3 linked regions of the Homo sapiens genome follow. The protein of the gene in region 1 purifies or fractionates together with the protein of each later gene. This does not show direct contact. Each region holds a gene or a part of one and is shown in the gene's direction. Other genes may lie near its edges. The genes, in order: SYCN, CNTNAP1 and SULF1.

The links.
Region 2: the proteins of SYCN (region 1) and CNTNAP1 purify together in Homo sapiens (affinity purification with mass spectrometry; one large-scale study listed by BioGRID and IntAct). This does not show direct contact.
Region 3: the proteins of SYCN (region 1) and SULF1 purify together in Homo sapiens (affinity purification with mass spectrometry; one large-scale study listed by BioGRID and IntAct). This does not show direct contact.

Annotation. Positions count from the first base shown.
Region 1 is NC_000019.10:39,202,267-39,205,859, reverse strand, and holds SYCN (syncollin precursor), read left to right. Parts: upstream 1-1,596; 5' UTR 1,597-1,605; coding exon 1,606-2,000; intron 2,001-2,863; coding exon 2,864-2,873; 3' UTR 2,874-3,035; downstream 3,036-3,593. UniProt on the Homo sapiens protein: Functions in exocytosis in pancreatic acinar cells regulating the fusion of zymogen granules with each other. May have a pore-forming activity on membranes and regulate exocytosis in other exocrine tissues.
Region 2 is NC_000017.11:42,695,923-42,699,576, forward strand, and holds part of CNTNAP1 (contactin-associated protein 1 precursor), read left to right. Parts: intron 1-102; coding exon 103-230; intron 231-1,351; coding exon 1,352-1,445; intron 1,446-1,631; coding exon 1,632-1,877; intron 1,878-1,980; coding exon 1,981-2,028; intron 2,029-2,695; coding exon 2,696-2,988; 3' UTR 2,989-3,654. UniProt on the Homo sapiens protein: Required, with CNTNAP2, for radial and longitudinal organization of myelinated axons. Plays a role in the formation of functional distinct domains critical for saltatory conduction of nerve impulses in myelinated nerve fibers.
Region 3 is NC_000008.11:69,656,819-69,659,255, forward strand, and holds part of SULF1 (extracellular sulfatase Sulf-1 isoform 1 precursor), read left to right. Parts: intron 1-1,686; coding exon 1,687-1,717; coding exon of another isoform or gene 1,718-2,437. UniProt on the Homo sapiens protein: Exhibits arylsulfatase activity and highly specific endoglucosamine-6-sulfatase activity. It can remove sulfate from the C-6 position of glucosamine within specific subregions of intact heparin.

The DNA of each region.
Region 1 (3,593 bases):
GCTGGGACTACAGGCGTGAGCCACTGCTCCCGGCCCTTGTTTCATTTCTATTGGCTGATTGGTAAGAGCTCATTTTATATGATAGGAATTGAGTCTATTTTTCCCTGGATGGGTTTGTGGGTTTTGTTTTGTTTTTGCTATATGACAGTTTTTACAGTTTTATACAGCTCAAAATCTATAAAACAAGATTGAAGTTTTATAGATTGAAGATTTCCAACCTTAGTTAAGAAAGTCTCCTGGCTCCTGGGGTGGGAGTTGCAGGCTGTTCCCTCCCTCTCCCTCTCCTAGGCCTGTCCTTAGCATGTGGGAGGGAGGAGTGCATTTCTTGTCAATTTGTATGCACTCTTTTTTTTTGACGCGATCTCGGCTCACTGCAACTTCCACCTTCTGGGTTCAAGTGATTCTCATCCCTCAGCCTCCCGAGTAGCTGGGACTACAGGCATGTGCCACCACGCCTGGCTAATTTTTGTACTTTAAGTAGAGACGGGGTTTCATCATGTTGGCCAGGCTGGTCTCGAACTCCTGGCCTCAAATGATCCACCTGCCTCAGTCTCCCAAAGTATTGTGATTACAGGCGTGAGTCACCGCGCCCAACCTGTGTGCACTCTTTATATATTATAGCTTGCAATGCTATGCTTTTGAAATGTTGCAAATATCTCCTCAAGCCTTTGTACACTGTCTTGCAAAAGGTTTTTAACGTGTTATGCAAATACTGCTATCTTGTACTTCACAGATTCTGGATTGCCAGCCTTGGTTGGGAAGATTGCCCAGTCTGAGCCTGGTGGGGGTGGGGGGTGGGGCGTTGGGCTCCTCCCCATCTCCTTCTCTACCTGCCCCCCCCCGCCCCACCACGAGGGCCTCTATCCTTATCTCCAGCTTCTCCTTTCCCAAGGTCCTGCCTCCCAGGGAGGGAGCCTGCCCAGCCAGGAGGCCCCAGCCTCCCACTCCTGCCTCCCCCTCCCAGTCTTTCCTTATTTAGAATAAGGGTTGTTCCATTCCTTATCTTTTTTTTCCTGTCTTTGTTGCCCAGGCTGGAGTGCAGTGAAACGATCTCGGCTCACTGCAGCCTCGAACTCCCGGGCTCAAGCGATCCTTCCGCCTCTGCTTTGTGAGTAGATGGGACTACAGGCCATGCCACCACGCTGAGCTAATTTTATTTTTCAGTAGGGATGGGATCTTGCTATGTTGCCCAGACTGGTCTCAAACTCCTGGGCCCAAGCGATCCACCCGTCTAGGCCTCCCAAAGTGCTGGGATTACAGGCGTGAGCAACCAGCAAGCCCCTTGTCAATTTTTAAGAGCTCTTCCCATTTCTGTCTATTAACCTATGCCACCCTCTGTGTTGCAAATGACTCCTCCTCAAGTTCTGTCTATTGTCTCTCTTTATAATGTTGTTGGTCACCTAACATCTTAAGGTGCTAAGTTGTATACACAGCGTCCACCTTGTACTCAGGGTTGTGGGCTTCCGACCTAGGTTAGGCAGGTCTCCCGGCTCCTGAGGGAGGGGCGCCCTCCCCTTCCCTCGATGAGTCCTTATCTCGCAGCTTGTCCCTTCCCACGGGTCGGGCGCATAAAAGCGCGCGGGGCTGCGGCAGGGCACTGCCACCATGTCCCCGCTGCGCCCGCTGCTGCTGGCCCTGGCCCTTGCCTCCGTGCCTTGCGCCCAGGGCGCCTGCCCCGCCTCCGCCGACCTCAAGCACTCGGACGGGACGCGCACTTGCGCCAAGCTCTATGACAAGAGCGACCCCTACTATGAGAACTGCTGCGGGGGCGCCGAGCTGTCGCTGGAGTCGGGCGCAGACCTGCCCTACCTGCCCTCCAACTGGGCCAACACCGCCTCCTCACTTGTGGTGGCCCCGCGCTGCGAGCTCACCGTGTGGTCCCGGCAAGGCAAGGCGGGCAAGACGCACAAGTTCTCTGCCGGCACCTACCCGCGCCTGGAGGAGTACCGCCGGGGCATCTTAGGAGACTGGTCCAACGCTATCTCCGCGCTCTACTGCAGGTGCCCGGCCGCCCAAAGCTCCGAGCCCACCCCAGGCCCAGGCCCCAGCTCCGCATAAGCCCCCACACCCACCACCCAAGCCCCGAGGCTGCTCCACACCCCTGAGCTCCCGACTGTAACAGGGAGCACCAGGCCTCCCTAGAACCAGTCCTGGAGGCCCCCATCTCAGAGTCCTCACCCAAACCAGGTCCTCCTTCTCCTCACCCCCAGCACCCGGTCCCCACTCCACCTGCAGCCCAGGCCCCTGGGACGGAGATTTCCGCCCCAGCTCTGAGATTCAGAGCCAACCCTCCACCTTCTGGAATCTTCCGCCTACCCACCCGCCCACAGCTGTACTTCCCAGAGAGGGCTGGCTAATTCTGGGGACTGAGAGCTCCTAGACCCCCTCACCCTGGAGTCCCCAGAACCAAAGCCAGCCCCCACTCCCCAGATCATCACATCTCAAAGCTCCCAGACTCCAAAACTAACCCAGACCTCAAGACTCCAGACTCGATTATAGGAACACCCAGTGTAGCCTTCATGCTCTCCACTCCCCTAGACCCTCCAGACCAGCCTCAGCCCTAAAATCAGTCCCACAGCCCACCCCCAAGACCCAACCCTGGAGGTCCCTGAGGCCACCTTGCACTCACAGACCTGGGACCTAGATCCAGCGGTGACACCCTCCCAAACCCTCCCCAGCCACTCCTGTCCCCCAAGAGCTCCAAGGAGCCCCCAGCTCCAAACTCCCAGGCTAGGATCCCTGGTTCCTGAACTTGGAGCCTCAGACCCAGACTCCCCAGCCCCCACCCAGTCTCAGGCTTCTAGAACTCACCAGACTCTGGGTCTCTGAGAGCCCCTGGAAGGAATTCTTGATTACATTTCAGGTGCAGCTGATGCATTGCTGGTCTCTCATCTGCAGCTTCCACAGAGTGCCAAGCCCCTCACTCAGCCCATCCCTGGGCTCTGCTCCGGGGCCCCAAGACCCAGGAGGAGGAGCGTTCTGCCTGCCCCCTCCCACCTCCCCTGCAATACAGCCTTTGTGCAGTTGTCCCCGTCTGTCATCTGCTTGTCCCTGGGATGCAAGGACCGGGTGGGATGGAGGAGACAGCAGGGTGGTTGGGCCTGGGTCAGCCCATACCCAGGACAATGCCATGGATAAGGACACGCCATCGACTCGGACATGGTTTTAGGTGTGCACGAAGACACACGCCCACAGAAGGACATGTGAGTGAACTGCAGGGGAACCTTGGGCTGATTGTTAAATATGAAACATGCCCCATCCTTTTCAGTAATAGCCCTTCCTTAGCCCTGGTGTGGTGGCTCAGGCCTGTAATCCTAGCACTTTGGGAGGCTGAGGTGGGCGGATCACCTGAGGTCAGGAGTTCAAGGCCAGCCTGGCAAACATGGTGAAACCCCGTCTCTACTAAAAATACAAACATTAGGGCGGGGTGCGGTGGCTCACGCCTGTAATCCCAGCACTTTGGGAGGCCGAGGCAGGCGGATCACGAGGTCAGGAGATTGAGACCATCCTGGGTAACACAGTGAAACCCCGTATCTACTAAAAATACAAAAAAATTAGCCAGGCGTGGTGGTGGGCGCCTGTAGTCCCAGCTA
Region 2 (3,654 bases), on another chromosome or scaffold:
CCCTAATTCTCCTATTGATTCACAAATACAAGGACCCACGTGCTGTTAGAAGATAGGAGTCATGGGGCCTGAGACCCCAAATTTCTTCTCCCCACCCCACAGGGACCCTTCAGCTGCGATATCAGCTGGGCACCAGTCCCTACGTGTACCAGCTAACCACTCGACCAGTGACCGATGGCCAGCCCCATAGCATCAATATCACCCGTGTTTACCGGAACCTCTTCATCCAGGTATGCATAGAGGGAGGTGAGCCAGTTCAGATCATAACCTCATGGTCTCCGTTGTGGCATCCAGGAAAACATCAAATACTTAATATTTGTAGATCACATTTGAATGTATAGAGGATTTTCACGTGTGTCACCTCATGTAACCCTCACAATAGCTCCAAGGGGACAATAGGCATTTTTTTTTTTTTTTTGAGATGGAATTTTGCTCTTGTTGCCCAGGCTGGAGTGCAATGGTGTGATCTCAGCTCACTGCAACCTCTGCCTCCCGGGTTCAAGCAATTCTTCTGCCTCAGCCTCCCGAGCAGCTGAGATTACAGGCATGCGCCACAACGCCCAGCTAATTTTGTATTTTTAGTAGAGACAGGAGTTCTCCATGTTGGTCAGGCTGGTCTCGAACACCCGACCTCAGATGATCCGCCTACCTCAGCCTCCCAAAGTGCTGGGATTATAAGCGTGAGCCACCGCGCCCAGCCAGACAATAGGCATTCTTATTTAAGTGTTTTACAAATCAGTAAAGAGCCTCAGAAAGTAAAGCGGTTTCAGCTACTCAGGAGGGTGAGGCAGGAAAATTGCTTGAACCTGGGAGGTGGAGGTTGCAGTGAGCTGAGATCGTGCCACTGCACTCCAGGCCTAGGCGACAGAGTGAGACTCCATCTCAAAAAAATAAAGTGGTTTACCCAAAGTCAAACCGCTGGTAAGCTGCAAAGATGGGGCTTAAAACCAGGGTTTTAAAAAATATATAGGCCAGGTGCAGCGGCTCACACCTGTAATCCCAACACTTTGGGAGGCTGAAGTGGGAGGACTGCTTGAGGCCAGGAGTTTGAGACCAACCTGAGCAACATAGCAAGACCTCATCTTCACAAAGAAAAATATTTAATAAATAAAATAAAATAATAATAATAAAAATATATATACCAAATCCTACATCTAGGCCCAGGGGTTGCCCACTTCAGATTGAGCTAGGACTCACCCAGCTGGCACCGCCAGTTTGGACAGAATGAGAGATCTCCAGTATCTGCCCCCAAGTATATTCCCAGGGTCCACACAGTTCCAGTCCAGCCCACAGGCATCTGCTTCTGGTCCCCGCTCCCTCATCGCCCTCCCCCTCCCCCTCCCCACCTCAGGTGGACTACTTCCCACTGACAGAGCAGAAGTTCTCGCTGTTGGTGGACAGCCAGTTGGACTCACCCAAGGCCTTGTATTTAGGGCGTGTGATGGGTAAGCTGCGGGTGCGGACGCGTTTTAGGCAAGGAGCTGTGGCATATGTTCCTGGATCCTCAAGGAAAGTGAAGGCCCTGGGAATGGCTGAGGGCAGTGGGAAGGATGAGTGGGAAACCTGTGGACAGTGAGAGTGGCAGGGCCTTTGGGTCCAAGTCCCTCTTTCTGGGCCTGCCTCTCTCTCAGAGACAGGAGTCATTGACCCGGAGATCCAGCGCTACAACACCCCAGGTTTCTCAGGCTGCCTGTCTGGTGTTCGATTCAACAACGTGGCTCCCCTCAAGACCCACTTCCGAACCCCTCGACCCATGACTGCTGAGCTAGCTGAGGCCCTTCGAGTTCAGGGAGAACTGTCCGAATCTAATTGCGGAGCTATGCCACGTCTTGTTTCAGAGGTGCCACCTGAGCTTGATCCCTGGTATCTGCCCCCAGGTACATTCCCAGGACACAGAGGACAGAAGGGAGGGATGACACGGAAGGGAATGATTCTTAACATGGAGGAGGCATCTCCTAACTGGTGCTTTCTCCTCTCCAGACTTCCCCTACTACCATGATGAAGGATGGGTTGCCATACTTTTAGGCTGTGAGTAGCACTGATCACTAAGCTGACCTCCCAAGACTACCCTCTGACTGTCAGCATCCTTTCCCTGCCCCTGATCCCCAAGGCTGCAGGATGGCAAAGGCACTAGATGCACAATGGCACAAAGGATGATGAGACAGGCTATGCTGAAGGTGCCATATAACTGGGCAGAGATTTTTAGATGTTTGAGGATGAGACAGGCTATGCTGAAGGTGACATATAACTGGGCAGAGATTTTTAGATGTTTGAGGATGCTACAGATTTTTAAATAAAATATTAAAATGAGACTATAGCTAAGGGATGGGAAAATGGGGATACAGTAACACCTAGAGAGATAAGAAATTGGGGTAACTACCAGGGATGTGGAAAGAGAATATTAGAAACAGAAGGTGGCAGGGGGTAAGCCAGGAATTCAAACCTGCCAGACACTTGAGATGAGTTTAGTGTGGTCGAACAGCTAACTGAGGGTCATACATTATGCTTTTGGCCAAAAGTAAATGTGTGTGTGTGTGTGTGTGTGTGTGTGTGTGTGTGCAGGTGAAATCCCAAAGTGTGTGTATGTATACAGGTGAAATCTCAAAGAGTGCGTGTGTGTGTGTGTGTGTGTGTGTGTGTGTGTGTATACAGGTGAGATCCCAAAGATCTGAATTGTCCCTTTTCTTCTTTTCAGTTTTGGTGGCCTTTCTGCTGCTGGGGCTGGTGGGAATGTTGGTGCTCTTCTATCTGCAAAATCATCGCTATAAGGGCTCCTACCATACCAATGAGCCCAAGGCTGCCCACGAGTACCATCCTGGCAGCAAACCTCCCCTACCCACTTCAGGCCCTGCCCAGGTCCCCACCCCTACAGCAGCTCCCAACCAAGCTCCAGCCTCAGCCCCAGCCCCAGCCCCAACTCCAGCCCCAGCCCCTGGCCCCCGGGATCAGAACCTACCCCAGATCCTGGAGGAGTCCAGGTCTGAATGAGTCAGAAGGGCTTCTGGGACCAATTCCAGCTCCTGACATTCCCCCAGTCCTGCCTCTCCCCCATCCTATCAGGGACATTTGGCTCCTCTTAGCTGGCTCTGCTCATCCAGAGGATATTCCCCCATCCCCCCCCCATCAAGTTTGGTGGGCAGAGCTACAGATGGGACCCAAGGGAGTGGCCGAGCCTCACTGCCTAAACCAATGCCCTTCTCATCCCTGTTTCCCCAGGCTCCTGGCTGTTTATCTGCCCCAAAGGAGAAGCCTCATGGGGTTGACATAGGTCCTTTCTGCCATCTCTGTTCCAGCTGCTGTCAGGGATTAACAACAGAGTGTAGGGGAGATTAACTGCCTCCCTTCCAATAGACACTATCAGCAGGGACAGATGTGTGGGAGTGCAGGGCTGCAGAGGGTATGGGGGGAGGAGGCTGCTAAACCCTATCCCCCAGCCTCCCCCCTGCCCTGAAGATCTTCCATTTGCTTCCACTCAGCTGGAGGCTCAAGAGGGCTTGATGGCTGTCCCCTGCCCCCCTCCTTTTGTTTTGTACACAGAGACCAAGAGGCCTCAGTTTAGCACCTTAGTACCTCCGCTGCTTCACTTGCTTTAGCCAAAGCCATAAAAAACCTGCAACGTAGAGAAAATAATGCAGATACCCTGACTAGCCAGCC
Region 3 (2,437 bases), on another chromosome or scaffold:
TTCCTTTGAGTACATATCCAGTAATGGGATTGCTGGGTCAAATGGTATTTCTGGTTCTAAATCTTTGAGGAATCACCACACTGTCTTCCACAATGGTTGAACTAATTTATACTCCCACCAGCAGTGTGAAAGCGTTCCTACTTCTCTGCAACCTTGCCAGCATCTGTTGTTTCTTGACATTTTAATAATCACCATTCTGACTGGCATGAGATGGTATCTCATTGTTCTACTTTCTTTTATGGTAATTTGATATAGATTTAGGTTCTTTTATTTCATGGATTTATACTATTTACAACCCTCCTGGTTTAAGAGAATTCTTTTCTGTGAGTGTAACTAAGTATACTTCCTCTTTACCTTTTTATTTTATTATTATTTGGGAGTGAAAGTGAGAGAGGTTGTGTGTCTTCCAACTTTTCGTATCTCTTTTTTCTTGCAGGATCTGAAATTTCCCATCTTTTGCTTCCTCTTTGTTTTACCACCCAGTTTCCAATGGCTGTTTCTCCCTTCTCTCTTCCTTTGTGTCCTTTTCTGCCCTAAGCAATGCCTCCCAGACTGCTGCCTTCAATCGTGCACAGGCACAAGGCTGGGACTTAGGGGTCCCATCCTCATTGTCAGTGCTGTGGCTCACCAGGAATCTTTACAGTATTTTATGCAAAAGATTGACGTTCTTTCCACCAACAGCCTCCAATCAATCTTTGACTCCACTGACACTTCCCTCTTCTCTCTTCCATACTGTTTTCCCAGAGCTTGTGGCCACAGTGTGACATTCAGCTCTGCTGGGATTTGGTGTCAACGTTTTTTATCTACACGTGATCTGAAGATTGTAGGATTCTCTATCTTCTAGCTAGACCGAGGTTGTGGGTTTGGTATAGTTTTGCTTATTCTTCTTGCTGGTCTGTATGGCTTTATGGGTGGTCATTGCACTCATCTAGGCCACCTCTTTCCAAATGGTACTTAGGCACAACTAGAGAACAAGTGTTATTTTCTGCAGGGCTACAGTCATCCTGGAGATGTAGAAAGATCTGAGAGAGAGAAAGCTGGTGCCTTCTTTGCATATGAGAAAGTCATTCAGTTATCTAAGGCACACATTTATCTAGGACATAGAACTTTCAGGGCAAAAACAACAATCAAAGAAATAAATCCAGGCATTTGATTTGAAGAGCTTAATTGCATTCAGATTTGCTTTTATACTGAGTGTTAGGGAATATAAAATAAAAATATCATACTAAGCATTGCCTATTACATTCAAATACTTTCAAATTTGTCATTCACCCAGCAACCTTATAAGTAGTAATGATTTTATCATACAACTATTTCTACACTTGACAGATGAGGGAGCAAGACTCAGAGGGACTCACTCACATGCTCTTCTGGTTGCAAAGTTGATTTGAGTGGGGCCAGGAGTGAAACCCAAATCCCCTGGCTGAAAGGACCGTGCCATTTTCAGCACTAACCATGCTTAGTCATAGATGTTTTCACGAATGTGATCTTTTTTTTCCCCAATTTTCTGTTGTTTAATCACCTGTAACCTAAGGCCACTCTGTGATAACAAATGACTAGGGGAAAATGCTTTTGAGTGTCATACTTCTCATTGATTAACTCTGTAAAAACAATGTAAGTTGCTTGTCCAGGTAAGTAGAAAGCCTTTTCTCCACTAATGATTCACCTTCTTCTCTCTTTTCACAGAGGACAGTTATGGGATGGATGGGAAGGTTAATCAGCCCCGTCTCACTGCAGACATCAACTGGCAAGGCCTAGAGGAGCTACACAGTGTGAATGAAAACATCTATGAGTACAGACAAAACTACAGACTTAGTCTGGTGGACTGGACTAATTACTTGAAGGATTTAGATAGAGTATTTGCACTGCTGAAGAGTCACTATGAGCAAAATAAAACAAATAAGACTCAAACTGCTCAAAGTGACGGGTTCTTGGTTGTCTCTGCTGAGCACGCTGTGTCAATGGAGATGGCCTCTGCTGACTCAGATGAAGACCCAAGGCATAAGGTTGGGAAAACACCTCATTTGACCTTGCCAGCTGACCTTCAAACCCTGCATTTGAACCGACCAACATTAAGTCCAGAGAGTAAACTTGAATGGAATAACGACATTCCAGAAGTTAATCATTTGAATTCTGAACACTGGAGAAAAACCGAAAAATGGACGGGGCATGAAGAGACTAATCATCTGGAAACCGATTTCAGTGGCGATGGCATGACAGAGCTAGAGCTCGGGCCCAGCCCCAGGCTGCAGCCCATTCGCAGGCACCCGAAAGAACTTCCCCAGTATGGTGGTCCTGGAAAGGACATTTTTGAAGATCAACTATATCTTCCTGTGCATTCCGATGGAATTTCAGTTCATCAGATGTTCACCATGGCCACCGCAGAACACCGAAGTAATTCCAGCATAGCGGGGAAGATGTTGACCAAGGTGGAGAA